4 separate regions of the Homo sapiens genome follow, and all the other regions are reported to be linked to region 1. The links are microRNA targets in miRTarBase. Many come from high-throughput screens and were not tested one by one. Region 1 holds a microRNA gene; each other region holds the end of a gene's coding sequence.
The links. The annotated mature microRNA hsa-miR-7-1-3p reads CAACAAAUCACAGUCUGCCAUA and lies in region 1 at 758-779, shown strand. An mRNA with a match to its seed (bases 2 to 7 or 8) in the 3' UTR can be bound and repressed. Matches are read on the target gene's strand: a 7mer-m8 pairs with bases 2 to 8, a 7mer-A1 pairs with bases 2 to 7 and ends in A, and an 8mer does both.

Region 1 (3,238 bases):
AGTAGTTAAGTAGGTTTTGAGCCCTTAACTAACTAAGGGAAACATTAGTAAGTGTGACATAAATACATTATAACTCAAACCTTGACAGGTTTAGGGAGCGTTAGATCATCAGTTAAGATTCTGAATGAATAAAATTAATAACTTCATGCTCCTTGAAAATACAGGTAGTAAATGTTAAAAGTATATCGTAAACACATACTTTTAAAAAATCTTTTCAGTTGGCTGGATCTATTATTGGCAAAGGTGGTCAGCGGATTAAACAAATCCGTCATGAGTCGGGAGCTTCGATCAAAATTGATGAGCCTTTAGAAGGATCCGAAGATCGGATCATTACCATTACAGGAACACAGGACCAGATACAGAATGCACAGTATTTGCTGCAGAACAGGTCAGTTTAAGTTTAGCTTTGTGTTAGCTTATACATACTAAAACCTTTAAAAAGCTTTTCTTCTCAATTGATTTTTTTCTTTTAGAAGCCATGGTGTCTCAACCTTTTGGGGACCTAACTTCTAAACATTCTAATAGTTTGCCTTAATTTTTCTTCTGCTTTCTTACTAAAAATGAAGACATTCAATACTAATCTTGCTGGAAGAAGCCTTAACCAAGCAAACTTCTCATTTCTCTGGTGAAAACTGCTGCCAAAACCACTTGTTAAAAATTGTACAGAGCCTGTAGAAAATATAGAAGATTCATTGGATGTTGGCCTAGTTCTGTGTGGAAGACTAGTGATTTTGTTGTTTTTAGATAACTAAATCGACAACAAATCACAGTCTGCCATATGGCACAGGCCATGCCTCTACAGGACAAATGATTGGTGCTGTAAAATGCAGCATTTCACACCTTACTAGCATTCTTTGTCTTTTCTACCAAATATTAACAACTTTCAATTCCGTTTTCTTAATTCTGTTCTACTAATGTCCGATTTACTACTCATCATTTTTCTTGACACTTAACATTGCTTTAATTTGTAATTGCTAATGGTTTTTGAACTCTTCTAATTGTAATGGACGTGTTTATCATTTTAATTTAGCATTGAAATTGTCTTGATGTTGATTAAGATGTTACGAGCAAAAATTCTAATTCGCACTTTTTTTTCTTTTCTTTTATAGTGTGAAGCAGTATGCAGATGTTGAAGGATTCTAATGCAAGATATTTTTTCTTTTTTATAGTGTGAAGCAGTATTCTGGAAAGTTTTTCTAAGACTAGTGAAGAACTGAAGGAGTCCTGCATCTTTTTTTTTTTATCTGCTTCTGTTTAAAAAGCCAACATTCCTCTGCTTCATAGGTGTTCTGCATTTGAGGTGTAGTGAAATCTTTGCTGTTCACCAGATGTAATGTTTTAGTTCCTTACAAACAGGGTTGGGGGGGGGAAGGGCGTGCAAAAACTAACATTGAAATTTTGAAACAGCAGCAGAGTGAGTGGATTTTATTTTTCGTTATTGTTGGTGGTTTAAAAAATTCCCCCCATGTAATTATTGTGAACACCTTGCTTTGTGGTCACTGTAACATTTGGGGGGTGGGACAGGGAGGAAAAGTAACAATAGTCCACATGTCCCTGGCATCTGTTCAGAGCAGTGTGCAGAATGTAATGCTCTTTTGTAAGAAACGTTTTATGATTTTTAAAATAAATTTAGTGAACCTATTTTTGGTGGTCATTTTTTTTTTAAGACAGTCATTTTAAAATGGTGGCTGAATTTCCCAACCCACCCCCAAACTAAACACTAAGTTTAATTTTCAGCTCCTCTGTTGGACATATAAGTGCATCTCTTGTTGGACATAGGCAAAATAACTTGGCAAACTTAGTTCTGGTGATTTCTTGATGGTTTGGAAGTCTATTGCTGGGAAGAAATTCCATCATACATATTCATGCTTATAATAAGCTGGGGATTTTTTGTTTGTTTTTGCAAATGCTTGCCCCTACTTTTCAACAATTTTCTATGTTAGTTGTGAAGAACTAAGGTGGGGAGCAGTACTACAAGTTGAGTAATGGTATGAGTATATACCAGAATTCTGATTGGCAGCAAGTTTTATTAATCAGAATAACACTTGGTTATGGAAGTGACTAATGCTGAAAAAATTGATTATTTTTATTAGATAATTTCTCACCTATAGACTTAAACTGTCAATTTGCTCTAGTGTCTTATTAGTTAAACTTTGTAAAATATATATATACTTGTTTTTCCATTGTATGCAAATTGAAAGAAAAAGATGTACCATTTCTCTGTTGTATGTTGGATTATGTAGGAAATGTTTGTGTACAATTCAAAAAAAAAAAAGATGAAAAAAGTTCCTGTGGATGTTTTGTGTAGTATCTTGGCATTTGTATTGATAGTTAAAATTCACTTCCAAATAAATAAAACACCCATGATGCTAGATTTGATGTGTGCCCGATTTGAACAAGGGTTGATTGACACCTGTAAAATTTGTTGAAACGTTCCTCTTAAAAGGAAATATAGTAATCTTATGTATTTTTTTGTGTGAAGTGTTTTTCTAGCATTTATAAGTGAAAGCTGGCAGGGGTGGTAGTTGGGCTCATAATTAACGTGGTAATTTAGCAAAATGAGAGCCTAGTCATCCAATTTTTTTTTTCTTATAGTCAGCCAGAGCTTTCCTCATTACCTATGAGAAATTTTGAGTGAGTTACTTGGTTCCTTTCTCTAAAATAGCTTTAGTTTGATGTTTGAGAATATCGGAGATAATGTAAAATAACTGCAGAGTATGGTTCCCGGCTCATATTTCTGAAGTACTACTTATTAACCTCCAGCTGTCCAGAAAGCTTGAAAACTGTTTTTGTTTTGTTTTGTTTTGTTTTTTGAGACAGTGTCTTGCTGTTTTTCCCAGGCTGGAGTGCAGTGGCATAATCTTGGCTCACTGCAACCTCCATCTTCTGGGCACAAGCAATCTTCCTGCCTCAAAACAGATGAACAACTATATAGGAAAGGAGTCATGAATGTAATTATTGAATTTAGGTCAGAGGCTTGTGTATAATAAAAGTAACAGTTGGGCAGTTCTAGAATTCATGTAAGTATTAATAGTATGAACAGAATAATGTCTTTTAAGGGAAGTAGAGTTGAGTGACATTTAGTTTGGGGAGGGACGTAGAGTGATCTTTTGATTAATGAAGAACATGAAGTAAATGTCAAAATATTACTTAAAACTAGTGAATGCTACCTGTGGTATGGTTTCCCCAGTGTGGTTGAGTTGGGGTTGCTCAGGGTGAAATGAGCCCTTACCCCTAA
Region 2 (3,238 bases), not on the chromosome of region 1:
CAAAGATTACTTTTTTGCAAAAGATCACCAAGCCAAACATTTGGCCATATTTTTATTTACTACATATACTATAAACATATACAATACATGCTACCAAAAAAAATTTTTTTTTAAATTTAACTGTCAAGAAAGTGTATAGTGTTATAATACAATGGCACATGTTTATATTTTATTTCAAATTGGTTTGCTTATCACCTATTTCAAACCATTAACAGTGAAATGTTACTTGTGGATAATTAAAAATTATCTATTTGCATTATTAACAATAAACAATTCCAACAAATTAATAAGAATTAACCATGTCAAATATTAGTATTCAAAAAATGGGATTTGCAGAAATGATTATATAAAATATAGCAGCCAATTTCAGTTTACTTTGCCAATAGGATTTCAGCATTTGCTTTTTTTTGGAAGACACTTATAAGACATCCTTTGATTTCTTGAGGGGCATTAACTGCCACACTCAACAGTCAAATCCAGCCCAGTGGTTCATGAACGGCCCTGGATCACTGATCACTGAGGAATCCTTAGGACTTGAGTAGCGCTGCCTGTTCCACTGATATTACATATGATGAAAAGAGACATTACAAGCCAATATCAAAGTCAAAGGAAAAGAAAATAGGAACATTCAAATCAGTTGTGACAAGGTTTTTCTACAAGTATTTTTGATGCCATACTTTCAGGAAAACAAGATTTAATGTGTGTGTGGACTTTACAGTATCTACGTTCTAACTGAAAATTTAACAAAGCAGTCAGATGGAATTACATGTAGTATTACAAATGTGTTCATTCAACACTAATGAGCACCCACTCTGTGCATAGCACTGGGCTACCATTTTACAAGTTGAGTTTAACGTCTTTATCAAGCATGACCTTAGTGTGAGGTAAAATACATTAAATTAGCGTCAACGCGTTAGTCTGCTTGCGGCCATGTACGGAATCCTGGGCCAGCTGGCTTCCCTGTGCCACGTCACCGGTTTCTCAGGTCTCCTCATTCACTCAGACAAATACGTGCACACTGACTGTGTGTCAGACAGTGTGCCGGTCACTCGGACACCACAATCTGGTATAGGTTCAAAGAATGTAAATTTATCATTTTAACCTATGCAGAACAATTAGAAAGGCAGATTATTTTTCCAAAATGAGGTCCAAAGCAAACTATAAGGTGTTTCTATTGGTCATACCACACCAGAGACCGGTAAGTGCCTTTATAGACTGAGAACTAACGTGGAAGTTTCATGCTGTCGTCTAAATAGCCTAGGTCATTTTTGGTCTCATAGGTCTATTTTGTGGAGCACCTGACCCCATATAAATCATTCCATACTTAAATGGGTTTGTAAACTAAACCTGAACATAAACAAAGAGCCAAAAATGAAGGCAGTTTACAATGTAATGTTCTTCAACAGCATTACTCTCCCCATGAGAAATGAATAATACATAAGTAATTCACAATTGGTTCAACATTTTTTTTTCTTTTTTTTTTCCTTTTTTTTTTTTTTGAGACTGAGTCTTGCCCTGTCGCTCAGGCTGGAACGCAGTGGTGCGATCTCGGCTCACTGCAGCCTCCACCTCCCAGGTTGAAGCAATTCTCCTGCCTCAGCCTCCCGAGTAGCTGGGATTACAGGCGTGCACCACCACGCCGGGCTAATTTTTTATATCTTTAGCAGAGATGGGGTTTCACTATGTTGGCCAGGCTGGTCTCGAACTCCTGACCTCATGATCCACCCGCCTCGGCCTCCCAAAGTGCTGGGATTACAGACGTGAGCCACCGCGCCCAGCCGGTTCAACATTTTTTCAAAGCACTAACCCTACCCCAAATTCATGTAATACTAACTTGACTTTTATACAAGTTGCACAGAATGCAGAGGGCAGAATTTGACCCCAAAACCTTCCACAGAATATCAGAGGTGATTGGTCCTTCCACTCTTGAGTAGAACCTAAGAATTCCAAGAGTCTCCTAATAGGATACTGGCCCTCTGGAGAAATGGCCCTGCTGGATCCCATTAGTTAGGACTCTAGTTAGCTGCTGTAGAAGGGTGACCTACTACGACCCTTTTGGGGAAGGCAGAGAGCTGGGAGACTGGCTGTCCACTTAGTGAATCCAACACTGGCTTAAAGCTATGCACTGAATAAAGTGCTCGGTACATCCTGCTTTTCACCTGGAATGAAAATACACACTTATCTTAGGAATTCACCTACTTACAGGTTTGGGGGACAAGAATGTCAAGGGCTAAAAGAATCCCAAGAAAAAGTATGAAGCATTGACTAGGAGGGAACAAATGCTTCTAGTAGTGTTCTTAGAATTCTTAGGATCTGAAATGTCAGAATGAGTCACACGCTGGTCATGCTCCATACAATGAAAGCAATCCTGCTTGATACTATTCACACGGTGCATGATTACTTCACGGGGGTGGAACGGAACAGTCTGTCGCCATTTGATAGTATGGTTCCAGAATGAAAACAAAACCACTGAATAAATCAGGGTAAGCAGTGTGTAACACTCCTTCCTGTCCATCGGTTTTCCACAGGGTGATTTGCACTGCCTGAGAGAAAGGAGGCAAGATACCTATCCCTTCTGATACACACAGGCACGACCACTACCGCCTCCAATTGCCAATTCAGAAGCTAACACACAAGCCCTCCAGTTCGTACCCTGAATATGGTAATTAAGACTAGGAATGGAGCAGTTCAGTCTAAAAAATATCACAGGTAACAGAATGCTTATATAAACTAGACTGCTTTTGACATCTGTAAGAAAATTGTATAGATGGCAGTTGGAAAAAAAAAAAAAAGATTGTTCCCATCTGTCAGCAAAACTGTTGAACTATACTCAGCTGAAGTCCTCATCGGGATTCTGTTGATCCAGCAGACGGACATGTGTGAATGGGAAGTGACCTCGTTTGCCATTACACTCCCCTTCCCACTGACCACTCACATTAATCTTCGTAACCTTTACCAGCTCACCGACCTGCAGGAGGAGAATAAGGAGAGCACTTTATTTCCAGGTAGGAATGCAAGCTGAACAACTCCATTCTCTGGTTAGGCACACCCTGCCCATGTGACTGCTCTAGGGATATTACAGAAATGGCCATTTGCTGCCTCCCCAGCCCCAGCCACCAGACTGATTACTTGTGGTTAATGCAGGCAGAAGGAAAAGTGTTTTTAGCAGTGTGGAAAAACAGAGAATACAGAAAGTAAAAGGGATTCCAGATAATGATACTTTTTGATTAAAAAAGGA
Region 3 (3,000 bases), not on the chromosome of region 1:
AATCTGGCCCTTACATAGTAACTGCATGACAGATGTTGCACTTGAAAAATTGATACTTGGAGGAACAGCTATAAATATGTAAAAATAATTAAAACAAGATTCCAAAATCATGCCATAAAAGAAAACAAATTTCAGTTGGACTAAACATCTAAATGTTAAAAACAAAAATTTTGTAACTTTTGGAAGGCTGAATAGGACTATTTTTATGACATTTCCTATACAAAAACCAGAAAAAGCAAATCATTATGAAAGATTGGTAAAATTACGTTTTTAAAAATTCAAGATTTCATAACCAAAATATGAAGACAAACCAGACTAAAAAAGATAATTGGAACATACATAACAGATCATTAGTATTCAAAATATGTAATATCTAAAAACTGACAAGTAAAAAAAACAACATAGAAAAATGAGCAAAAATGCCTGTAATCCCAGTGCTTTATAGGAGGAGGCGAGATGGGAGGATTGTTTGAGTCCAAGTTTAAGGTTACAGTGAGCTATGATCCTGCCACCACACTCCAGCCTGAGCAATAGAGTGAGATCTTGTCTCTTAAAAAAAAAAAAAAGAGTAAAAGATATGGCCTCAGAAATCACACACTGCATTTGCTCAATATCCTGGTAGTTACAAAAGTCAGCACTGTAAAATGCAGGAGAAGGCTATACTGGGGCATGAACACCAGGAGGCCAGGGATCACTGGGGCCATCTGGAAGCTGGCTACCACATATATAAAACAATATTTTGTAGCGCTTTTAAAAAATATATTTGTATTAAAAATATAAAAACACATGCTATATTATGCCCCCTCTAGTGGTTACCTCTGGGGACTCTGGGGAGGGAGGAACGGGACAGGATCAAACAGGTAACAAAGCAAACTTCAAATGTATCTAACATTTGCAATTACATGCATATGTGTGTCTGAAGAAAATATAGCCAAATGCTAACATTTATTACATCTGCATGGTAGAAATACACGGATTTTCTTGAAATCATTTACCTTTCCTATATCTTTGAAATATGTCAATAAAGTTTTAAGGTAATGAATCCAAACAAATGGAAATAAAATGTGCTTTTAATAATAATTTATTTTTACACATTTTAAAAATTGCAATTTTCAGGAGATGTAAGAAGAATATTTTTCTAATACTGAAATAAGCATATCTTTGGTATAGAAATCACACCCTATGTGTTTATCTTTAACTAAAAAAACTAATCAAGAACTATGACCTAATATGTTAAACAAAACTATTCTTTGCCCATCCATCTGTCCCCTCTCATAGCCCCATTGTGGGGCATTAGAATATAGTTCTGTACCTATCTCCATATCTACAAAGAATTAAGATGTTGTATCAAAAATGTCCAGAAGTTATATATGGTAGAGAATTAGTTGGCTTAATCGTTGACACACAACACAAAACACCAAAAGCAACATAAGATACAGGATGCAAAATAGAACACTGTCACTAAGATCAAATAATACAAAAAAAATCACATCATTTAAATTTGATGCATTGCAAACAAAGTAACTTCTTTAGAATTATTATGTACACAACTTGCAAAGCTCAAAAAGTAATAGCACAGAGCCATAAATCTGATAAGGCACTTTAAAGATAGCAATCAAACATATACAAATATCAAATACAAACACTGTTAAACTGCAAAAGCAGTAACCACAGAAATAAATAGGGAAAAAATATGCATTCTTTCTAAACAGTCTTTCCCTTTCTGAAGTAAAGTCTTTAAAAAAAAAATCAAACAAGTACAAAAAATATTTATCATATATTTTTAAAACCTATCATCAAAGTCCAAATCTCTGTAAAAAAAGAATGTTTTTCTTCAAGTCAAAAAAGTTCAGATTCATACATTTCCTAGAGAAACAATGACAGTCTTCATGCTAAATATAGGAAGAAAAAAAGCTTTCAATTATGTTTGTTAACTCTTTTATTCAACAAACATTTAGTGAATGTTGTGTGACCCTGTTTTAGGTGCTGGGGATATAGAATAAAGACACAATCATTAGCTGTAGACAACTTAGCCTAACGGAGCTGGATCCACCACTGGCAACCTTAAAGTTACCTCCCTTGGTCCTTAAGATGAAACGCAACTTCAAAGTCTGCCATGCTTAGCATCTTGTTGCAAAACAAATAATGGTCTACCTAGTTTGCTACTGGTAGCACTGTGGCTCTATTAATATTAACCGTCTATTGATGAAGTTAACTTTCATAAAGGATTCTATGAAAGTTCAGAGGCATAAAGTATTTAAGGACAAACAAGTACTGGTCCGCAACAAAAATAGCATCGGTATTCTGCTTTCACAAAAACCAAGAAAACCAAGAAAAATTTCATTCTGAGTATATACAGAACTGCTGGACAGAGGTCATCCTATATGTGTGGTACATGTACAAAATATGACATAAGAAGTATGAATTATTGCAGTCATTATTAAACAACGAAGTATGCCAAATCAGTCATCAGGTTTCAAAGAATCATAGCCTTCTTTCAAGAGGTCCCGCCACGTTTTAAGGAAACGTGCATTTTCTGTACATTTGAAGGCAAGTTCTTCCACTTGAGCTGATACTGCAGATGTGGCTTCAAGAAGTTTGGTTAATGAAAAGGCTGCCTAAAAAAAAAAAGTCAAACATAATTTTATTTTTAAAATTCTCATCTCATTTTATAAGCAGGCTGAAAATAGCTTAAGGCTTTGAATCCAATGCCCATGTTATTTTCTTTCAAAGTAATCAGTTTTCAAACTACAGCACTGGCTCTTTCACGGAACCTAAGAAATTCTTTAATATTGAGTAGACTTTGAAGAAACAGGTCTGCTAGAAAAATATCCATTATGTCTGAGATATGACAAATCAGTATAGTTGTTTTCTTTTTTTTTTTTTTTTTTTGAGACGGAGTTTCGCTCGTTTCCCAGGCTGGAGTGCAATGGCGCGATCTTGGTTCACTGCAACCTCCGCCTCCCGGGTTCAAGTGATTCTCCTGCCTCAGCCTCCTTA
Region 4 (3,238 bases), not on the chromosome of region 1:
CCCTAAGTGCCTTATTCACACCTCAAACTGCAGTTTACCCAAGGAGAGGAAGCCAGCCCATCCTCCATGGGTCCCACAAACTACCCACTGCTCCTCAGCAGACAGTAAACCCCTAACTTGGCCAAAAGTAAAGATCTTCCATCCTGGGCTGGCTGCACTGAGTAATTGCTGACCTACATCTCTCTGAGATGCAGCCCCCAGAAGACAAGCAAAGAGATAATGCAGCAAGCCAGCTCATGTGGTGGCCAGAGGGTTTGGTGCAAGAGCATCTGTAGTAAAGTGTGGCCAGTGATGGCCATTTCTCTAGGCTCAACTGTCTCCCATAAGAGACTTTAGCCCTACGGGAACTGTTGGGCCTAATTTCTGCAGGATGGTCTTGCAAATCAGAAGAAGCTGGTCCAACTGAGCACTCCTTGGTCTGCTGGCCTCTCCCAGGGACCCAGTCTGGCCACAGCTGCTTACAGGGCAGTCTCAGGTACCCTGGAAGCTCATACCAGAGCATCTGCACTGGAGGGACATGCCTGACTCATGAAGAGCTCCAGCAAAGCAGCCCCTATGACTGCACCAGCCCACATTTCTTCCCCATACTGCAGCTTCCCGTGACACCATGGCAACTCCTGATATTTCTTTGCTGGCACATGTCTGCAAAGGCAGGTTTGGCTTTGCTTGCCCCACCAGCAAATGGGAATGCAATATGCCCCGCCACCCCCAGCAACTGCCATTGTAGATGAAACTTTGGTGGGCAGAGAGCCAGAAAACTCCACCCCTGCCTTTGTGCTAACACTGTGCAGAGAACAGGGTAACCTCCCACACTCTGAACAATCACTCTTTCTTGGGGGGCACAGAGAAGGCATCAAAACCTTTACTGGCCAGTATCCTGCCCCAAGCCAACACCACCTTTAGTGCAACAGCACACAGCCTCCAGCAGGTATCCCCCACTCCCTTCCCAGCTGCTTTGCTCCTGCCACTGAGGTGAGTACCCAAAGACAGGCAGAAATCCCATATCCACTAGCACTCTGCTCCAGCTATGGCACCTTCATCCCACAAACTCGCAAACTCCAAATCTCAAGGAGCCAGAGAACACAGTTGGGGCTCAAAACAAGTCCCCCGGAGTTAGAGTATGCAGCCTCTGAGTTGTGAGCTGAGCATTGCCCACCCACCACCACCACCAAACAAAACAAAACAAAACAAAACAAAACAAAAAAAACCTCCCAGGAACAAAGCCTGTTGGCTGCATCCATCTTATACCACAATCAAATACTCAAGACCATCAAATAGGATTAAAAAAAAAAAAGCCCAAAGGTCAGCAACCTCAAAGATATGCCCACAAAGATAAGACACAATCAGTGCAAAGATAAAAACACAAAAAGCCAGAGTGACTTCTTTCATCCAAATGACCAAATTACATTTCCAGCAAGGCCTAAGATGACAGAAGTAGAATTCAGAATATGGGTAGAAACAAACTTCACTGAGTTACAAAAGTAATTTGCAACCCAATGCAAGGGAGGAAAAAAAATTGCAGGAACTGACGGAAAAAACAGCCAGTCTGGAGAAAAAATGTGGCCAACCTGATAGAACTGAAAAACACAATACAAAACCTTTATAATGTAATCACATATATTAACAGCAGAATAGGCCAAGCAGAGGAAAGAATCTCAGGGCCTCAAGACTGGCTTTCTGAAATCAGACAGACAAGAACAGTGAAAAAAGAATAAAGAGGAATGAACAAAACCTCTAAGAAATATGGGATTATGTAAAGAAACCAAATCTATGATGCAAGAGATTGCCTGAAAGTGATGGGGAGAATGAAAACAACTTGAAATACGTATTTCAGGATAACATCCATGAGAACTTCCCCAACCTAGAGAGGCCAACATTCAAATGCAGGAAATGTGGAGAACCCCAGTAAGATACCCCAGGAGAAGGTCATCCTCAAGACACATAATCATGAGATTCTCCAGGGTCAAAATGAAAGAAAAAATATGTTAAAGGCAGCTAGAGAGAAAGGCCAGGTCACCTCTAAAAAGAAGCTCATCAGGAAAACAACAAATCTTTCAGCTGAAATCCTACAAGTCAAAAGAGATTATAGGGGCCAATATTCAACATTCTTAAAAAAAGAATTCCAACACAGAATTTCATATCTGACCAAGGTAAGCTTCAGAAGTAAAAAATATATATGATCCTATTCAGACAAGCAAATGCTGAGAAAATGTTACCACAGGATCTGTCTTAAAAGAGCTTCTGAAGAAAGCATTAAATAAGAAAAAGACTATTACCAGTCACTACAAAAGCACACTAAAGTATACAAACTGTGGACACTATAAAGCAACCACAGAAACAAATGTGCAAAATAGCCAGCTAAGATCCTAATAACAGAATCCAATCCACACATATGAATACTAACCTTAAATGTAAATGGGCTAAATACCCAAATTAAAGCACAGATGGCAAGCTGAAAAAAGAATCAAGATCTAATGGTATGCTTTAATCAAGACACCCATCTCAAATAAGCTCAAAATAAAGGGAAAAAGAAAAGCCTACCAAGCAAATAGAAAACAGGAAAAGAAGCAGGGGTTGCAATCCTAGTTTCTGACAAAACAGACTTGAAATTAACATAGATTTAAAAAAAAAGGGCATTACATAATAGCAAAGGGCTATATATGTACCCAACATATAAGCAACCAGATTATAAAGTAAGTTCTTAGAGACCCTCTAAGATGATAAATGTTCTTCCACTGTCATTACATTTATACTGCATTTGTTCAGTATTAAATTTCAGATGTTGAACACAGTATGAGGACTTGGTAAAGGCTTTTCCACATTTTTAACACTTGTGGAGCTTCTCTCTAGTATGAATTCTCTTATGTCTGATGAGGTGTGAGAACCAGCTCGATGCTTTGCCACATTCTTCACATTTGTAGGGTTTCTCTCCAGTGTGAATTCTCTTATGATTAGTCAGGTCTGAGAAGCACTTAAAGGTTTTGCTGCATTCTTCACATTTGTAAGGTCTCTCTTCCATATGAATTCTCTTGTGGTTAAAAAGGGTTGAGGAGCGGGTAAAGGCTTTGCCACATTCTTCACAGATGTAGGGTTTCTCTCCAGTATGAATTCTCTTATGTTTACTAAGGGCCGAGAACCACTTAAAAGCTTTTCCACATTCATTACATGTGTAGGGTTTGTCTCCAGTATGAATTATCTTATGTTTAGCAAGGTCTGAGAACCACCTATAGGCTTTGTT

Region 2: miRTarBase lists CRK as a target of hsa-miR-7-1-3p. Seed matches in the 3' UTR shown: 7mer-m8 at 2,275-2,281, 7mer-A1 at 742-748 and 7mer-m8 at 278-284.
Region 3: the mRNA of C4orf46 is a reported target of hsa-miR-7-1-3p. Seed matches in the 3' UTR shown: 7mer-m8 at 2,138-2,144, 7mer-m8 at 1,047-1,053, 7mer-A1 at 862-868 and 7mer-m8 at 124-130.
Region 4: the mRNA of ZNF736 is a reported target of hsa-miR-7-1-3p. Seed matches in the 3' UTR shown: 7mer-m8 at 2,337-2,343 and 7mer-m8 at 2,045-2,051.

What each region holds. Positions count from the first base shown.
Region 1 is chr9:83,967,312-83,970,549 of GRCh38, reverse strand. MIR7-1 (microRNA 7-1) reads left to right here and starts at 693; the gene lies at 693-802. It overlaps HNRNPK (heterogeneous nuclear ribonucleoprotein K), which reads left to right. Exons shown (of 17, transcript NM_031263.4): 16 at 219-388; 17 at 1,110-2,467. The coding sequence ends at 1,143.
Region 2 is chr17:1,420,683-1,423,920 of GRCh38, forward strand. It overlaps CRK (CRK proto-oncogene, adaptor protein), which reads right to left. Exons shown (of 3, transcript NM_016823.4): 3 at 11-2,968. The coding sequence ends at 2,831. Among named protein-coding and RNA genes, the nearest start is that of CRK-AS1, 2.3 kb to the right of the region's middle.
Region 3 is chr4:158,667,151-158,670,150 of GRCh38, forward strand. It overlaps C4orf46 (chromosome 4 open reading frame 46), which reads right to left. Exons shown (of 2, transcript NM_001008393.4): 2 at 1-2,618. The coding sequence ends at 2,463. Among named protein-coding and RNA genes, the nearest start is that of C4orf46, 3.2 kb to the right of the region's middle.
Region 4 is chr7:64,348,734-64,351,971 of GRCh38, reverse strand. It overlaps ZNF736 (zinc finger protein 736), which reads right to left. Exons shown (of 4, transcript NM_001170905.3): 4 at 1-3,238. The coding sequence ends at 2,825. Among named protein-coding and RNA genes, the nearest start is that of ZNF736, 36 kb to the right of the region's middle.